Linked DNA regions of Homo sapiens. The protein of the gene in region 2 purifies or fractionates together with the protein of the main gene of each other region. This does not show direct contact. Each region holds a gene or a part of one and is shown on either strand. Other genes may lie near its edges.

Evidence for each region.
Region 1: the proteins of MRPL48 (region 2) and SDHB fractionate together in Homo sapiens (co-fractionation; one large-scale study listed by BioGRID). This does not show direct contact.
Region 3: the proteins of MRPL48 (region 2) and UBXN4 fractionate together in Homo sapiens (co-fractionation; one large-scale study listed by BioGRID). This does not show direct contact.
Region 4: the proteins of MRPL48 (region 2) and WARS2 fractionate together in Homo sapiens (co-fractionation; one large-scale study listed by BioGRID). This does not show direct contact.

What each region holds. Positions count from the first base shown.
Region 1 is NC_000001.11:17,029,744-17,033,656, forward strand, and holds part of SDHB (succinate dehydrogenase [ubiquinone] iron-sulfur subunit, mitochondrial isoform 1 precursor), read right to left. Parts: intron 3,403-3,913; coding exon 3,317-3,402; intron 1-3,316. UniProt on the Homo sapiens protein: Iron-sulfur protein (IP) subunit of the succinate dehydrogenase complex (mitochondrial respiratory chain complex II), responsible for transferring electrons from succinate to ubiquinone (coenzyme Q).
Region 2 is NC_000011.10:73,839,461-73,843,373, forward strand, and holds part of MRPL48 (large ribosomal subunit protein mL48), read left to right. Parts: intron 1-3,866; exon of another isoform or gene 3,867-3,907; intron 3,908-3,913.
Region 3 is NC_000002.12:135,751,731-135,755,643, reverse strand, and holds part of UBXN4 (UBX domain-containing protein 4), read right to left. Parts: intron 2,106-3,913; coding exon 2,077-2,105; intron 1,486-2,076; coding exon 1,367-1,485; intron 128-1,366; coding exon 1-127. UniProt on the Homo sapiens protein: Involved in endoplasmic reticulum-associated protein degradation (ERAD). Acts as a platform to recruit both UBQLN1 and VCP to the ER during ERAD.
Region 4 is NC_000001.11:119,077,865-119,081,777, reverse strand, and holds part of WARS2 (tryptophan--tRNA ligase, mitochondrial isoform 1 precursor), read left to right. Parts: intron 1-3,913. UniProt on the Homo sapiens protein: Catalyzes the attachment of tryptophan to tRNA(Trp) in a two-step reaction: tryptophan is first activated by ATP to form Trp-AMP and then transferred to the acceptor end of tRNA(Trp).

The DNA of each region.
Region 1 (3,913 bases), on a different chromosome or scaffold from region 2:
GGCTGAGTCTTGCTGTGTCACCCAGGCTGAAGTACAGTGGTGGAGTCATAGCTCACTGTAGCTCACTTTAGCCTCAAACTTCTGGGCTCAAGCGATCCTCCCACCACAGCCTCCTGAGTAGTTGGGACTACAGGCACATGCCGCCATGTGCGGCGAATTCAAAAAAATTCTTTGTAGGTTGGGTGAAGTGGCTCACACCTGGAATCCCAGCACTTTGGGAGGCTGAGGTGGGCAGATCACTTGAGGTCAGGAGTTCGAGACCAGTTTGGCCAACATGGTAACCCCCTGTCTCTACTAAAAATATAAGTCGTGGTGGGTGCCTGTAATCCCAGCTACTCAGGAGGGTGAGGCGGGAGAATCATTTGAACTGAGGAGGAGAAGGTTGCAGTGAGCAGAGATCGCGCCACTGCACTCCAGCCTGGGTGACAGAGCAAGATTCCATCTCAAAAAAAAGAAAAAAATAATTGTTTTTTGTAGAGCAGGTGTCTCACTATATTGCCCAGGCTGGTCTCTAACTCACGGCCTCAAGTAATCCTTCTGCCTTTGCCTCCCACTGTGTTGGGATTACAGGCCTGAGCCACTACACTTGACAGAGGTAAGGCTTCTTCTATTGTCTTCATAAAATACGCAGCATAGTACCCTGGGGCTATGAAATCCACAAAAGCTGACTCAGCATGGACTTTCCAAAGAGGAGAAGAATGAACTAATATGAAACTGAGGCAAAGCAAAGCAAACTAAACAAAAAACGTGCTGACCCAGGACCCCGACATGAGAATTTTCTTAGCCTGGACCTACTTCCTGTATATGGAAATTTCCTGGGTGTTTTGGAATTTAAAAATGATTATGTACTCTAAACCTCTAGTGCCAGTCCTCTGAAGCTGTTTTTTGAAGATCATTAGGTCAGAGAAACCTGATTGCTTGAGAAAGTTGCACTGGTTATCATCTTTTTTTTTTTTTAGATGGAGTCTTGCTCTGTCGCCCAGGCTGGAGTGCAGTGGCACGATCTCGGCTTACTGCAACCTCTGCCTCCCGGGTTCAAGTGATTCTCCTGCCTCAGCCTCCTGAGTAGCTGGGATTATAGACGCCCGCCACCACACCTGGCTAATTTTTGTATTTTTAGTAGAGACGGGGTTTTACCACGTTGGTCAGGCTGGTCTCGAACTCTGACCTTGTGATCTGCCCGCCTCGGCCTCTGAATGCCTGGCCTCACCTTTTTTTTTTTTTTTTTTAATGGAAAGGGAGTCTATGTTTCCCAGGCTGGTCTTAAACTCCTAGCCTCAAGCTAGCCTACCACCTAGACCTCCCAAAGTACTGGGATCACAGGCGTGAGCCACTGCGCCCAGTCGGTTATCACTTTCATAAGACTAGAAAAGACAGTAAGACTCTCCTTCTCCTGTAAATCTTAGAAAGAGTGTAAGGGAACCCAAAGATGTGTCTTAAGCAAATACTCCTAGAGTTCCCCAAGAGACTGGATATTATCAATACATTTATGTATACCTGGCATCCAACTAGAGCAGTTTGCTTTTACAAGAAATGGCATAAAAATTAAAAAAATAAATCCAATGAACTTTCTCTCAAAAAGGCTCCCTGGGAATTCTCTTACAAGATGGGAATTAAAAAAAAAATAAGAAAAACAAGATGGGAATAAAAAGGAGTAGCAATTGATACAATTCTGCTTTATTTTTTTTAGTCCAGATGGGTCACACCTTATGTTCTTGGTTCTGAAAGAGTCCTACAGGGAAAGGTTACTGAAAAGCATCTACCTTTCCTGTGTTGCCAGGACTTAATGGGGAAGGCTGCTGTTTAACTGCCGCAGAATGTTCCCTGAACAGCAGGACTCAGCCGAACTATCATAATATCCATCAGCATTTGCAACGCTAAATAAGATTAGCTGAATCAAAACAGATGTCTTAAAAGACTTGAAATGCTTGAAATGTACAGCTGAACAGATAAAAAGCCATGGGCCGGTATCAATACTGGCTTTTCCTTTTTTTTTAAGGTTTTCTTAGAAAAAAGCTCAGTGTCCTCACAGAATCAAGCTACTCTCTGCTTTTGTTTTATCCCAGGTGTTCCAAGCCAAGTCAGTGCCTGAGAGAGCAGATCTGGAGTCTGGAGTCTGACAGCTTTGGCTGACTCCCGGCTCTCAAGTCACTCTCTATGTGTCCTTGTGGAAGTCCATTACCCTCTCTGGGCCTCACCTTTAAATTGAAGGTAGATAATAAGCACAGTCATCTACCTCATGTCCAGTGCACAGAACAGAGCCGGGCACACAGTCTGGCTCCACGGACATCAGGCCAGTCGGTCTTCACTGCACCCTGTGCAATTTTTGCTATACCTGAGAACCACCTGAATCAACTTTCTTTAAAGTATCTCTTGGGTTTTCTTTAACTTGTTTTGCTTAAATTCACATTAAAAAACCACTTATATCCCTATTATACCATCATTAGTAATTATATTTTTCTTTTTTTTTTTTTTGAGACTGTCTCGCTCTATTGCCCAGGCTGGAGTGCAGTGGCGTGATCTTGGCTCACTGCAAACTCCACCTCCCGGGTTCCTGCCTCAGCCTCCCGAGTAGCCAGGATTACAGGCGTCCGCTATCACGCCCGGCTAATTTTTGTATTTTTAGTAGAGACAAGGTTTCACCATGTTGGCCAGGTTGATCTCGAACTCCTGACGCCAGCTGATCCACCCGCCTCGGCCTCCCAAAGTGCTGGGATTACAGGTGTGAGCCACCGCACCCGGCAGTAATTATATTTTTCTAATACAGAAAATGAATACATTGCTATTCATGTAGAAAATGTTAGTCTGCACACTGCCTCAAATGGGCTCATGTGGCACCAGCAGCACAAGTAACCACATGCTGAGGGAGACACTGTACCAGCCAATCCAGAACACAGCTACCAAGGACATGTCATGCTGGGAGCTGAGGGAGACTCACACATCTCCCCTGCTGGACAAGCATAAGTGCCAGACAGAAACTCTCCACTGCTCCCTTAATAAAAGAGCTCAGCAGCATGGAAGGTGCCAGCCAGCAGGTCCTAGCTAGGCCTTGAAGCGTGGAGCAGCTCACAGGGACCGCCAGATGCAGTAACCACAGGATAGAATGCTCCTGAAGGAAAGTAAACTCAGAAACCAGAACTTGCACCATGGTTAGAATTTTGGATGCATTTACCCAAGAAAAGGAATTAGGTTGCACAGCAAGTTCACCCAGCAGAGAGCTGCAGCTGTTTTCCAGATGTCTCTATCAGCTTTGGCCAGCCCAAGCCTCTTTGGAAGACCACAAGTATCTGGAGCCCAACAGGAATGAAATGCTCACCTTCTCTGCATGATCTTCGGAAGGTCAAAGTAGAGTCAACTTCATTCTTAATCTTGATTAAAGCATCCAATACCATGGGGCCACATCTAACAAAGAAAAATATCCAGTGGTATTTATGTAACGTTCAACCTCCCTACACTTTATCATAATATAATCGGAGACACCTGGATGTATTAGCTTATCCATTTGGTCTTCTCAGGTCACCTTCGGAATTTGTTCTGTAGTTTTGTTTTTGCAGATTCTTACATTTTAAGTACTGCACAGTTCTATTTTGATGATCACAGTGCAAACACATTTCTAGGAAATGGAAAGCTAAAGTAGTAGTAGACAAGTATGACACAACTTCCATACAGTGGCCGAGTTTTTGTTTTTTACTTCTGAAGCTCCCTGCAAAGTTTTTCCAAATAATTTATTTCAAATTTTAGTTTGATTTTTAGGATGTAGACAATAGTTTTAAATAGTAATTAATAATACATAACCATAAGAGAAGACATAGTACAGAGAATAAAAGACACCCAATCACTCACAGTCCCCCAGTCAAATCACTGTGAGCCTCCTAGAACATACAAGGGCAGTGACATGGTACTAAGCGGAGCA
Region 2 (3,913 bases):
AGCCCAATGGAACAGAAGAGTAGAGAAACAAATGCACATATCTCTGGGTGCTTGTTATATGACATAGGTGGCACTGTAAAGTAGTGTGGCTGGGTCATTTCGGCTGGATGATCATGTGAAAACAAAAAATGACTCTTGACCCTATTTCACGCCACACACAGAAATGACTTAAAGATGGATTGTAGATCTAAATGTAAATATTAAAATAATAAAACTGCTAGAAGGTAAAATACAAGGATGTCTCCATGATCTTAAGGTAGGCAAAGATTTCTTAAACAGGACACAAAAATCCCTATAACCATAAAAAATGAATACATTGGACTACATTAAAAATAAGAACTTAATTTCAACTTCAGGCCTGGTGTGGTAACTCACTTCTATAATCCCAGCACTTCGGGAGGCTGAGGTGGAAGGATCGCTTGAGGTCAGGAGTTTGAGACCTGCCTGGGCAACAGAGTGAGACTCCATCTCTATGAAAAATTTTAAAAATGAGCCAGGCATGATAATGTGCACTGTAGTCCCAGATACTTGGGAGGCTGAGGCGGGAGGATCACTTGAGACCCGGAGTTCCAGGCTGCAGTGAGCTACCGTTGTGTCACTGCACTCCAACCTGGGCAATATAGTGAGACCCTGTCCTTAAAAAAAAAAAAAAACTCAGTTTTGTCAGTGACAAGTTAAATGAAAAAGAGAAAATAAATAAAAATAAAAAATAGCTTCTCATCAAAATATACCATTATAAAGTTAAAAGGGGGCTGGAAGCTGTGGCTTATGCCTATAATCCTAATACTTTGGGAGGCCAAGGCTGGCGGATCACTTGAACCCAGGAGTTTGAGACCAGCCTGTGCAACGTGGAAAAACCTTGTCTCTATAAAAAAATGCAAAAATTAGCTGGGCATAATGGCACATGCCTGTAATCCTAGCTGCTCAGGAGGTTGAGGTGTGACGATCACTTGAGCCTAGGAGGTCGAGGCTGCAGTAAGCTGTGATTGTGCCACTGAACTCCAGCCTGGGCAACAGAGTAAGACCCTGTTGTTGTTTTTTGTTTTTTGTTTTTTTATAGACGGAGTCTCGCTCTGTCACCCAGGCTAGAGTGCAGTGGTGTGATCTCAGCTCATTGCAACCTCTGCCTCCCAGGTTGAAGCGATTCTCCTGCCTCAGCCTCTGGAGTAGCTGGGACTACAGGCACCCGCCACCACGCCCAGCTAATTTTTGTATTTTTAGTAGAGGCGCGGTTTCACCATATTGGCCAGGCTGGTCTTGAACTCCTGACCTCAGGTGATGCACCCACCTCGGCCTCCCAAAGTGTTGGGATTACAGGCATGAGCCACCACACCCGGCCAACCCTGTCTCACAAAAAAATAAAATAAAATAAAAATAAAGTAAAAAGGGAAGGTACAGAGAGGGAGAAGATATTTGCAGCATGTACAAAGGATCATGTTTAGAATATATAAAGAGCCTCTACAAATCAATAAGAGAAAGGCAGACAACCCAGTTTTTAAAATGAGCAAAATACTTGAATAGGCAGATTACAAAAGATAGTATCCAAATAGCCAGTAATCATATGGGAAGGTGCTCAGGCTCAATAGATATAAAGAAAATGCTAGTTAAAATCTCATTGCATTACCACTACCAAAATGGCTAAAATAAAGAAACCCACAAGAAAACCTGACTATACTGTTTTCTAAGTGTTAGGAAGAATGTAGAGCAATTAGAACTCTCATACACTGCTGGTGGAAGTCTAAATTGGAAACTACTCTACAAAACTGTTTGAGAGTGTCTATTAAAGGTGAACCTGTTCATACTGTGTAACTCAGTAGTTCAGCTCCCAGGTACACCCCCAACAGAAATGCATACATATGTTCACTAAAAGATACATACTAGAACATTGGTTGCACTACTATTCATAACGGCCCCATACTGGAAATAACTCAAATTTCCACCAACAGTAGAAAGGATAAATAAATTGTGGCATATTCATACAGTGGACTAGTAGCACATGAGAAGGAAAGAATTGCCATTCCACATAATGCCTGGTTGAATCTTATGAACCTAATGAATGAAAGAAGACGGACACAAAAGAGAATGTATCTATCATTCCATTTTCATGAATTTCAAAAACATGCAAAATAACTCTATGGTTTCATAAGTCAGGATAGTGGTTACTAATTTGGGGAAAGGAGATCTTTTTAGGGTACTGGTAATGTTCTGTTTCTTGTCTAGGGTACTGATTACAGAGGTACTTTCACTTTGTGAAAATTCATTGAGGTGTAACTTATTTATGTATTTTTGCATATTAATGCAATAAAAATTTACTAAAATTCAAACATAATAGATTTTAAAATTCTAATTTTAGATTAATAAGATATTTACACTATTAGAAAATTTTAAAAACAGAAGAAAATAGTTTAAAATTCTCATTCCTACCCCCAGACCCCAGCCACCTAGTTCCCTCACAAACAGCCAATGATACTAGTTTTTGGGGGGGGGTTTGTTTTTATTTTTGTTTTTGAGACATGGTCTCACTCTGTCGCCTAGGCTGGAGTGCAATGGCTCAATCACCACTCACTGCAACCTCTGCCTCCCAGGCTCAAGCGGTCTTCCTGTCTCAGCCTCCCAAGTTGCTGGGACTACAGGTGTGCACCACCACGGCTGGCTAATTTTTATGTTTTTTGCAGAGCTGGGATTTTGCCATGTTATCCAGGCTGGTCCTGAACTCCTAGGCTCAAGCAGTCTGCCTGCCTCAGCCTCCCAAAGTGCAGGAATTATAGGCGTGAGCCACTGTGCCTAGCTGATACTATTTTTGTACATGCTTCCAGAGATATTTTTTAAATATGCAAGCAAATAAGCATGTATGTAATTACACACATGCACACACACACATATCTATTCTCTTCCAGCTCCCCCATTTTATATGTGTGGCAACATTTTGAACACATTATTCTACAGTTTGCTTTTATCATTTGTTTTATCTTAAAGACCTTTCCAGTATCTGTACATAAAGAAGTGGTTATTTATTTATTTATTTATTTAGAGATGGAGTCTCGTTCTGTCGCTCAGGTTCGAGTGCAGTGGCGGGATCTCAGCTCATTGCAACCTCCGCCTCCCGGGTTCAAGCAATTCTCCTGCCTCAGCCTCCCAAGCAGCTGGGACTACAGGCGCACACCACCGTGCCCAGCTAATTTTCATATTTTTAGTAGAGACGGGGTTTCACCATATTGGCTAGGCTGGTCTCGAACTCCTGACCTCATCATCCACCTGCCTCGGCCTCCCAAAGTGCTGGGATTACAGACGTGAGCCACCGCGCCCGGCCCCTTATTTCTTTTTACAGCTGCATAATTTACTTAATAAGTCTCCCTCCTTTTCTGTTTTGAAACAGGATCTCACTCTGTTGCCCAAGCTAGAGTGCAGTTGCGTGACCACGGCTCACTGCAGCCTCAACCCCTCAGACTCAAGCCATCATCTCACCTGAGCCTCCTGAGTAGCTGGGATTACAGGCACTTGCCACAATGCCCAGCTAATTAAGAAAATTTTTTTTGTAGAGTCGGGATCTAGCTATGTTGTCAGGGCTGCTCTTGAACCCTTTGGCTCAAGTTATCCTCCTATCTTGGCCTCAAAGTTCTGGGATTACAGGTGTCAGCCACTGTACCCAGCTATAAGTCCCTCTCTTTATGGGCATTTAGGTTAGATTATTTTCGGTTGAGGTGCTTTCTTCTTTCTGAAGTATGTTGTGTTAAATATTTTTTCCCAGGCTTTGTTTTAACTTTTTTTTTTTTTTTTTCCCTTGAGATGGAGTCTCGCCCTGTCACCCAGGCTGGAGTGCAATGGCGTGATCTCGGCGCACTTCAACCTCGCCTCCCAGGTTCAAGTGATTCTCCTGCCTCAGTCTCCTGAGTAGCTGGGATTACAGGTATGT
Region 3 (3,913 bases), on a different chromosome or scaffold from region 2:
GCTCTGCATTTCTGGACTGAGAGTTTTCACAAGTGTTGTTAGGTTCAAATGACGCAGATGGAGTAGACACTGAACTTTCTGACTGACTGCCATTTGCTACTGATGTTTCACTTTTTAGCAAATGCATCTAGGCAGAAAATAAATTGGATTTTAATTAATAGATAAGAATCTAAACTTACCATGGCAGTAGAGACCAAAATACAGGTTGATTTATACTCTATAAAAAGAGAAATACGAAATGCTCATAAATAGATGAATCCAAAATGTATAATCCTAAGTATGATATAATCACATTATGGAATTTACCTGCAAGCTGGCAAGACCATAAAAACATTTGTTAAAGCACACTATTGATTTTCCCTCAAATTAGAATTCAAAGAAAAAAGTTACAAACTTCTACCAGCCATTTGTCCAAAGTAGACAGAAATGATTAATTATTGAGTATAACGTCCTTAAAATATATTAAGCAATATATAGTTAGAGCCTTAATATGACAGCAACTTTCTCTTTCAACAAAGTTATGGTGATATTCATTATGTGTTGAGACTGGGGTAAAAGATGGCTAGGTGTGGTGGCTCATGCCTGTAATCCCAGCACTTTGGGAGGTCAAGGCGGGCAGATCACTTGAGGTCAGGAGTTCAAGACCAGCCTGGCCAACATGGCAAAATTCCGTCTCTACTAAAAATGCAAAAATTAGCTGGGCATGGTGGCATGCGCCTGTAATCCCACCACTGGGGAGGCTGAGGCAGAAAAATCGCTCGAACCCGGGAGGTAGAGATTGCAGTGAGCTGAGATCAGTCCACTGCACTCCAGCCTGGGCAACAGAGACTCCATCTCAAAAAAATAAAAAAATAAAGAAAGGTAAAGAAGTCAGTCAAGTATTAGGTACTGGCTACTGGCACCTGTAACTTCATGCTATTTACAAAAACAGGTGACAAAGACAGTACTTACTACCTTTTAAGATTTTTGGCATGGCAGTTTCCTGAATATACAGAGGGGCTCCAAAAATATTCCAATGTTAGGAAGGGTGCGGTGGCTCACACCTGTAATCTCAGCACTTTGGGAGGCCGAGGCGGGCAGATCACCTGAGGTCAGGAGTTTGAGACCAGCCTGGCCAACATGGTGAAACCCTGTCTCTACTAAAAATACAAAAATCAGCTCAGTGTGGTGGCAGGTGCCTGTAATCCCAGCTACTTGGGAGGCTGGGGCAGGAGAATCACTTGAACCTGGGAGGCGGAGGCTGCACTTGAGCTGAGATCACACCACTGCACTCCAGCCTGGGCGACAGAACGAGACTCCATCTCAAAAAAAAAAATCCAATTCCTGACGTACCATTTACGGAAACAACAGTTCTGTTCCTTCTTACCTGTCGGACCTTGTGAATTCTTGTAACAAGTTCATCTGCAGAAACACTTCCTGCTATTACTTCCAAGGGAATTCCACTGTCTCCAATAAAGAAACTGGATGGAACACACACTACAGGATCTGTACAGTTTAATGAAGTCTAACAATTCATGTGAAACGAAAGGATAGTTTTACGAAACACTATTGGTAACAAAGGAAAACAAATGATCTTTGTGATTTTCACAATATAATCTAACATTTATTAAATAATTTCAAGTACTGCATCATTATACCTGTAGTATTAATACATGTGACATGTTAATTTATGAGGTATATTCTAGTGAAGAATCTACTACATTCTCCTCTATCATAACTTCCTTTTCTATCCATCTTGCTGCCAGCTGCCTCTTGCAAGCTACTTGTAACATTCCAACCCAACTGATCTATATTGTTTTTCAGATATTCACATTTTAAAAACTCCCTATCCTATCTTTAGCTGCAATATATTATCTCAATGTATGGGGTGCACTACACCATTGAGTTACTTTTATATATGTTTGAAATTTCCTATAATAACATTTTTTTTAAATGAGGACACTTAGTAATAAAGTTTCCATAAAAAAGAATGTATGATTTCCTAAATAAAAATGAATAATTTCTAAATTTCATAAATTAACCAAAAGGAAGGTAAATAAATGTATATATATAAGCCATTCTTTACTGAAAGGATACAGATTTGTGAAAACTGTAGGCAGGCTTCACTGTAAAACAAAATCAAACAAAATCACTAGATGAATGCAAGTATTTTCTAAATACTGAGTTGTTTTAATAAAATTTACTGTACCAATCACAAGTATTTTCCTGCAACTACCAGTTTCTTTCACAGCAATCAGGTTGAAGGAGAAAAATATAATTCTTATTTCATTAAGACTTTTTCTGGTTTGTTTTATAATTTTCAAATGAAAGAATTATTTGTGGCTTGGCATGGTGGCTCATGCCTGTAATCCCAGCATTTTGGGAGGCCGAGGCAGGCAGATCACTTGAGATCAAGAGTTCGAGACCAGCCTGGCCAACATGGCGAAACCCCGTCTCTACTAAAAATACAAAAATTAGCTGGGCATTGTGGCAAGTGCCTGTAATCCCAGCTACTTGGGAGGCTGAGGCAGGAGAATCGCTTGAACCCAGGAGGTGGAAGTTTCAGTGAGCCAAGATTGCACCATTGCACTCCAGCCTGGGCAACAAGAGCAAAACTCTGTCTCAAAAAAAAAAAAAAAAAAAAAAAGGCCGGGCGTGGTAGCTCACAGGTATAATCCAAGCACTTTGGGAGGCCAAGGCGGGTGAATCACAAAGTCAGTAGTTGAGACCAGCCTGGCCAACATGGTGAAATCTGGTCTCTACTAAAAATGCAAAAATTAGCTCGGCGTGGTGGCACACACCTGTAATCCCGGCTACTCAGGAGGCTGAGGCAAGAGAATCGCTTGAACCTGGTAGGCAGAGGTTGCAGTGAGCCAAGATCGCGCCACTGCACTCCAGCCTGGGCAACAGAGTGAGACTTCATCTCAAAAGAGAAAGAACTATTTGCTCTTACAACCCACAAGCTAGTGGCTGCATCTGGTAGCTAAAAAATTAATTTGGTATCTGCCATGCTGCTTCCTCAGCAGACAAGTATACCTGAATACAATATCTTAACCTGGAACACGAAGACATAAGGCCTACGACTTACTTAGGCATGTGATAATGTAATACTCTATAATAACAAAGGATTAAAAGCAATCTATATACCAATAAAAACTGAATAATTATGCAATCACAAAAAAAGGCAGGCCAGCACTGTGGATCACATCTGTAATCCCAGCAATTTGGGAGGTCAAGGCAGGTGGACACGAGGTCAGGAGTTCGTGACCAGCCTGGCCAACATGGCGAAACCCTGTCTCTACTAAAAATACAAAAATTGGCCTGGCGTGGTGGCTCACGCCTGTAATCCCAGCACTTTGGGAGGCCGAGGCAAGTGGATTATGAGGTCAGGAGTTCGAGTCCAGTCTGGCCAACATAGTGAAACTCCCTCTCTACTGAAAATACAAAAAATTAGCTGGGTGTGGTGGTGTGCACCTGTAATCCCAGCTACTCGGGAGGCTGACACAGGAGAACTGCATGAACCCAGGAGGCGGAGGTTGCAGTGAGCCGAGATCATGCCATTGCACTCCAGCTCAGGGTACAATGTGAGACTCTGTCTCAAAAAAAAGAAAAGAAAAAGGTATAGAAAAGTATGTCAAAATGCTATTAATACTATTTTTGTAAAACATGGAAGGAAAACAAACATAAATATATTTTCTTGATTTGGTTCCCTCCAGAGAAGGGAGCTGAGTGGTCAGGGATGGGAGAGAGAATTTATAAGATTAGTAAGAGATACTCATCAATGTAGATGCTTCCAATAATCAAACAAATGCTTCTAAGAACTAGAATTTGCTTTTTTCCCTCAAATATAAAGCATTATTATCATAAAAACATTTAAAAACATAGTAAAAAATCAAGAAAAAAAATTACCCAAAATCCTACCATTTCAGAAATA
Region 4 (3,913 bases), on a different chromosome or scaffold from region 2:
GAAAATGTTGAAGATAATTTCAGGAATGTAGGATTGAAATAGTAGGGCAATGTAGATGATAGAATTGAGAAACACTAACAGAGCTAAGGAGTGACAGCTTTAAACAATATTTTAAAATTTATATACAATGAGAAGAATAAATAGACTTATAGAAAGAGATTTTCATCCCAATTACCTGGTAATGTTATTGAATACTTTTTTATTACAATCTGTGATAAAATGCCATTTATGTAACCAATAAGACATAGTGTGGCCATTGAGCCAAGTTTGTGGTTTACCTTTGACTGTAGTTAAAACAAGTGTGATGAATGAACAATTGCTGTTACAGCTGGATACAAGCAGGACTTTGTAAGAAGAGTCTTGAAATCTTTAGTTGAAGTCTGTTTCTCACCACTGTACTGAAGCTGAAAGTGTTTCAAAGCTAGTAGGCAGCCTTCTTTTGATGGATCTTATTCACTTGAAATTAAAGACAGAAGCTCTCCTAATCACAAAAATTCTTTTGCCATAATTAATAACTTGGGAATTTTCAATTGCTTTTGAGTACAGTAAGAAAATTAAGGAAATTACACATTTTGGATGTGCTCAGTACCTTACAACAGGAATAGTTTCAGCTATGTCTGTCAAAATGATAAGTATGCTCTACCTTTGATTTGAATACCCACCCTCTCTTCTAGTATATGTCAAATCCTAGAGCTGAAGCTCCCCAGGGATTTGGTACTGCTGGTTCTGTTATAAAAATGAGCCAATAAATGTATAGGCTGGAAGTGGCATTTACCAGGGAAATATGCCTGAAATGAAATGAAGACCTACTTTCTAACATGCTTCTTTTTTAATCCTCTGCATACTGTGATGGAATTGTAGGTTGATGCTCCAGGCTTCCCCTTGAATGAATGCCTGTGGGCTAGGCTAGAAGCTGTTTTCTTTGTGGTTTGTCTCTTGTCCAAACCCATGGGAAGCCCAAGCTCCTTTCGTTTTCATTCTTTTCTAACTCTAGTGCTTTTGAACACAGAACCCCCATCCTCCCACCACCCAAACTCCACATTCCAACCCCATGATTTCATGGTACCTGGCATGTCTCCCCTGCCATGCCGTCAGGCCGCCTGCTGACTCCTGCAGAGGGAACAGACGGGAACATAAACTCACTGCAGAAGAGCAGGATGCTCTCTGTATATTTTTAAGACCAGGTATCCAGTTCCCATTTAGAGGCTGTATTTTTTTAACAGCGCCTTGAAAATTGAACAAAACACTTCTCGTTGGTCTCATTGCTTGATAATATCATTCCCTCTGCACTAATGTATAGAATCCCAGGAACTAGAGAATGGAAAAGATGTATTAGATCATTTCTAGCCCATTCCCACTGGTCACAATACTTTTTTCCCACAGTCTCTTCTCTGGTGCTTTTCTCTTCTAGTTTTCTCAAGAATTTGTTTTCTCCATTTCTCCTGGGGAATAATTTCTGAGTTTGAAGATGGAGGAATATATGTGAAAATATTCCTATTATTTTCAACTTAAAATTCCTGGTCTTTATAACCCTTTACATTACCATAAACAGTCCCTTATCTTCCTAGGTCAAGTATTTCAGGATGGTATTTTTTTCCTTTCCATTTATTAACTTCAGAGTTTGTTTTTCTGCTTTGCTTTCTCTCTTCATCAATCAGTCCCTAAAGCCCATTAATCATTTCTTACTGCACTGAAAATTCCTTTGCTTATTCCCATATCAGGAATCCAGAGCTGGTTAGGGTTCCTAGGTCCTGGAGGAAGCCTCGCTAATAGGTACTCATTCTATGCTAACTTCTCTCTCTCTCTCAATTCTCAAGTAGGAATTATTTTAAAAATATTGTTTCTAGATTATGATTTGGGGATTTCATCACTTGAAAGCCTTTTATGTGTGTGTTTGTGATTTTGAGTGTAAGATTATATTTGTTCTCAATTACCTGAAAGATATTTTTCATATCCTCAGAGCCACAGATCATTTGGGTTTCCTCCTCAGTTCCTGGATCAAGCACAATTCTGGACCATGGAACTATGATGTAGCATTCTATTTTAGGGCTATCATCTTAGGAGTTGAGAGGAAAATAGACTATATTTGTAGGATTTGGAATACTTGGGGAAAAGGAAGTGCCAAATTTAAGTAACCTTGGCACTCACATATCAAAAGTAGATTAGCTCTCAGGAGCTAGCATTAGGTATAAAAAAGACTTAACATGGCTTGTGGCTTCCTGGATTGGAGGACTCAATATTATAAAGATGTCAGTTCTCCCCGAAACAATCTATAGATGCAGTGTGATCTCAGTCAGCAACCCCAACCAGCAATTGCAGCTTCTAATCTGATCTAAAAAGAAGCAGCAAAAAATGAACAGGGTTTTTTTTTCTCTTGAGACTTGACAAGATGATTCTAAAATATATTGATACGTATAAAGGGCCAAGGATGGATAAAGTACTCTTGAAGAAAAAGAAGGTTGAAAGCCTCACTTTAGCAGGTTCCAAGACATATTTTTAAAAATCAATGTTATACTGACACAGTGACAGACAGATAGACTAATGAGTCAGAATTGAAAGACCAGACCCTTACCAGATTCTTCATAGAGGGATCCTTGATTTATGATGGCGATGGAATTTCAAAGCAGTGGGAAGAGACAGTCTTTTCAATAAATGGTGCTAGAATAATCAGATATTCATATAGGAAAAAAAGAAGAAATTAGATGCTTACCTCACACCATATGCAAAAAAACTCCAGATGGATACAGACCTAAATGTGAAGAGTAAAGATAAAACTTCAAAGTGCACACACACACACATTTTGTATATGCATATGTGTGTGTGTGTGTGTCTAGCTATATGTATGTATCCATATATGCACACACACACACACACACACACGTGCACCTTCATAACTGCAGGGTATTGAAAGATTTCTTCTATGATACAATAATCTGTTATCAGAAGTTATATATCTGATTCATAAAATTAAGTACTTATCTTTGTCAAAAGATAATATAAATAGAAGACAGCCATACAATAAGACAATATATGCCCTACATGTAATTGACAAAATATTAGCATCTAGAATATGTACAGATTCTGAAATCAATACAAGACAATCCAATCTGAGAAAAACAGGCAAAATAATTTAAATAGGCTCTTCATAGAATAGGAGGTAAAAATAGGTAGTAATCATAAAAAGAGTTCCCAACTTCTTTAATAATCAAAGAGAGTTAAACCATAATGAGATTCTACCTCATTTCCATCAGATTAGCTAAAAATAAAAAGACTGCTAATACCAAGTGTTGATGAGGATATGGAACAACAGGAACTTGGTAGAAAGTGTATAATGTTACATACTTAGGAATAGTTCACTATATTGAAGTACTACAATTGAAGATACGTATACATACCTTATGACTCGGCAATTCTACTCCTAGATATATACACTAGAGAAACTTGGCTCATAATACATTAAGATACCTGTATAATAATGGTCTTTTTTGTCCCTGTAATTTTTTATTTTGCAAATTTTTAAACTGACTGAAAAGTTGCAAAATTAATACAATGAATATAATAAAGTCTTAATAGATGGTAGCTAAGCAAAGCATAGTAGCTAGTAGAGAGAGCATACATGGGCTTTGAAGTCAGTGATATCTGGCCTGAAACCTCAACTCCACCACTTACTAGCTGTGTGACCATGGGCAATCTAGTTAAATCTGTGAGCCTCACGTCTCTCATCTATAAACTGGAGGTAATAATATGCCTACCATATTAGGTATTAAAATGATTAAATGCATTAATATATGTAAAGCACTGGGCATAAATGCTTGCAACATAGTTGTTCAGTAAATTATTGCTGCTATTGTTTTGCTGTGGTGGTGGTTAAAAATGATAATGATGCATTATATTTTCTCAGGGCCTTTTAGTT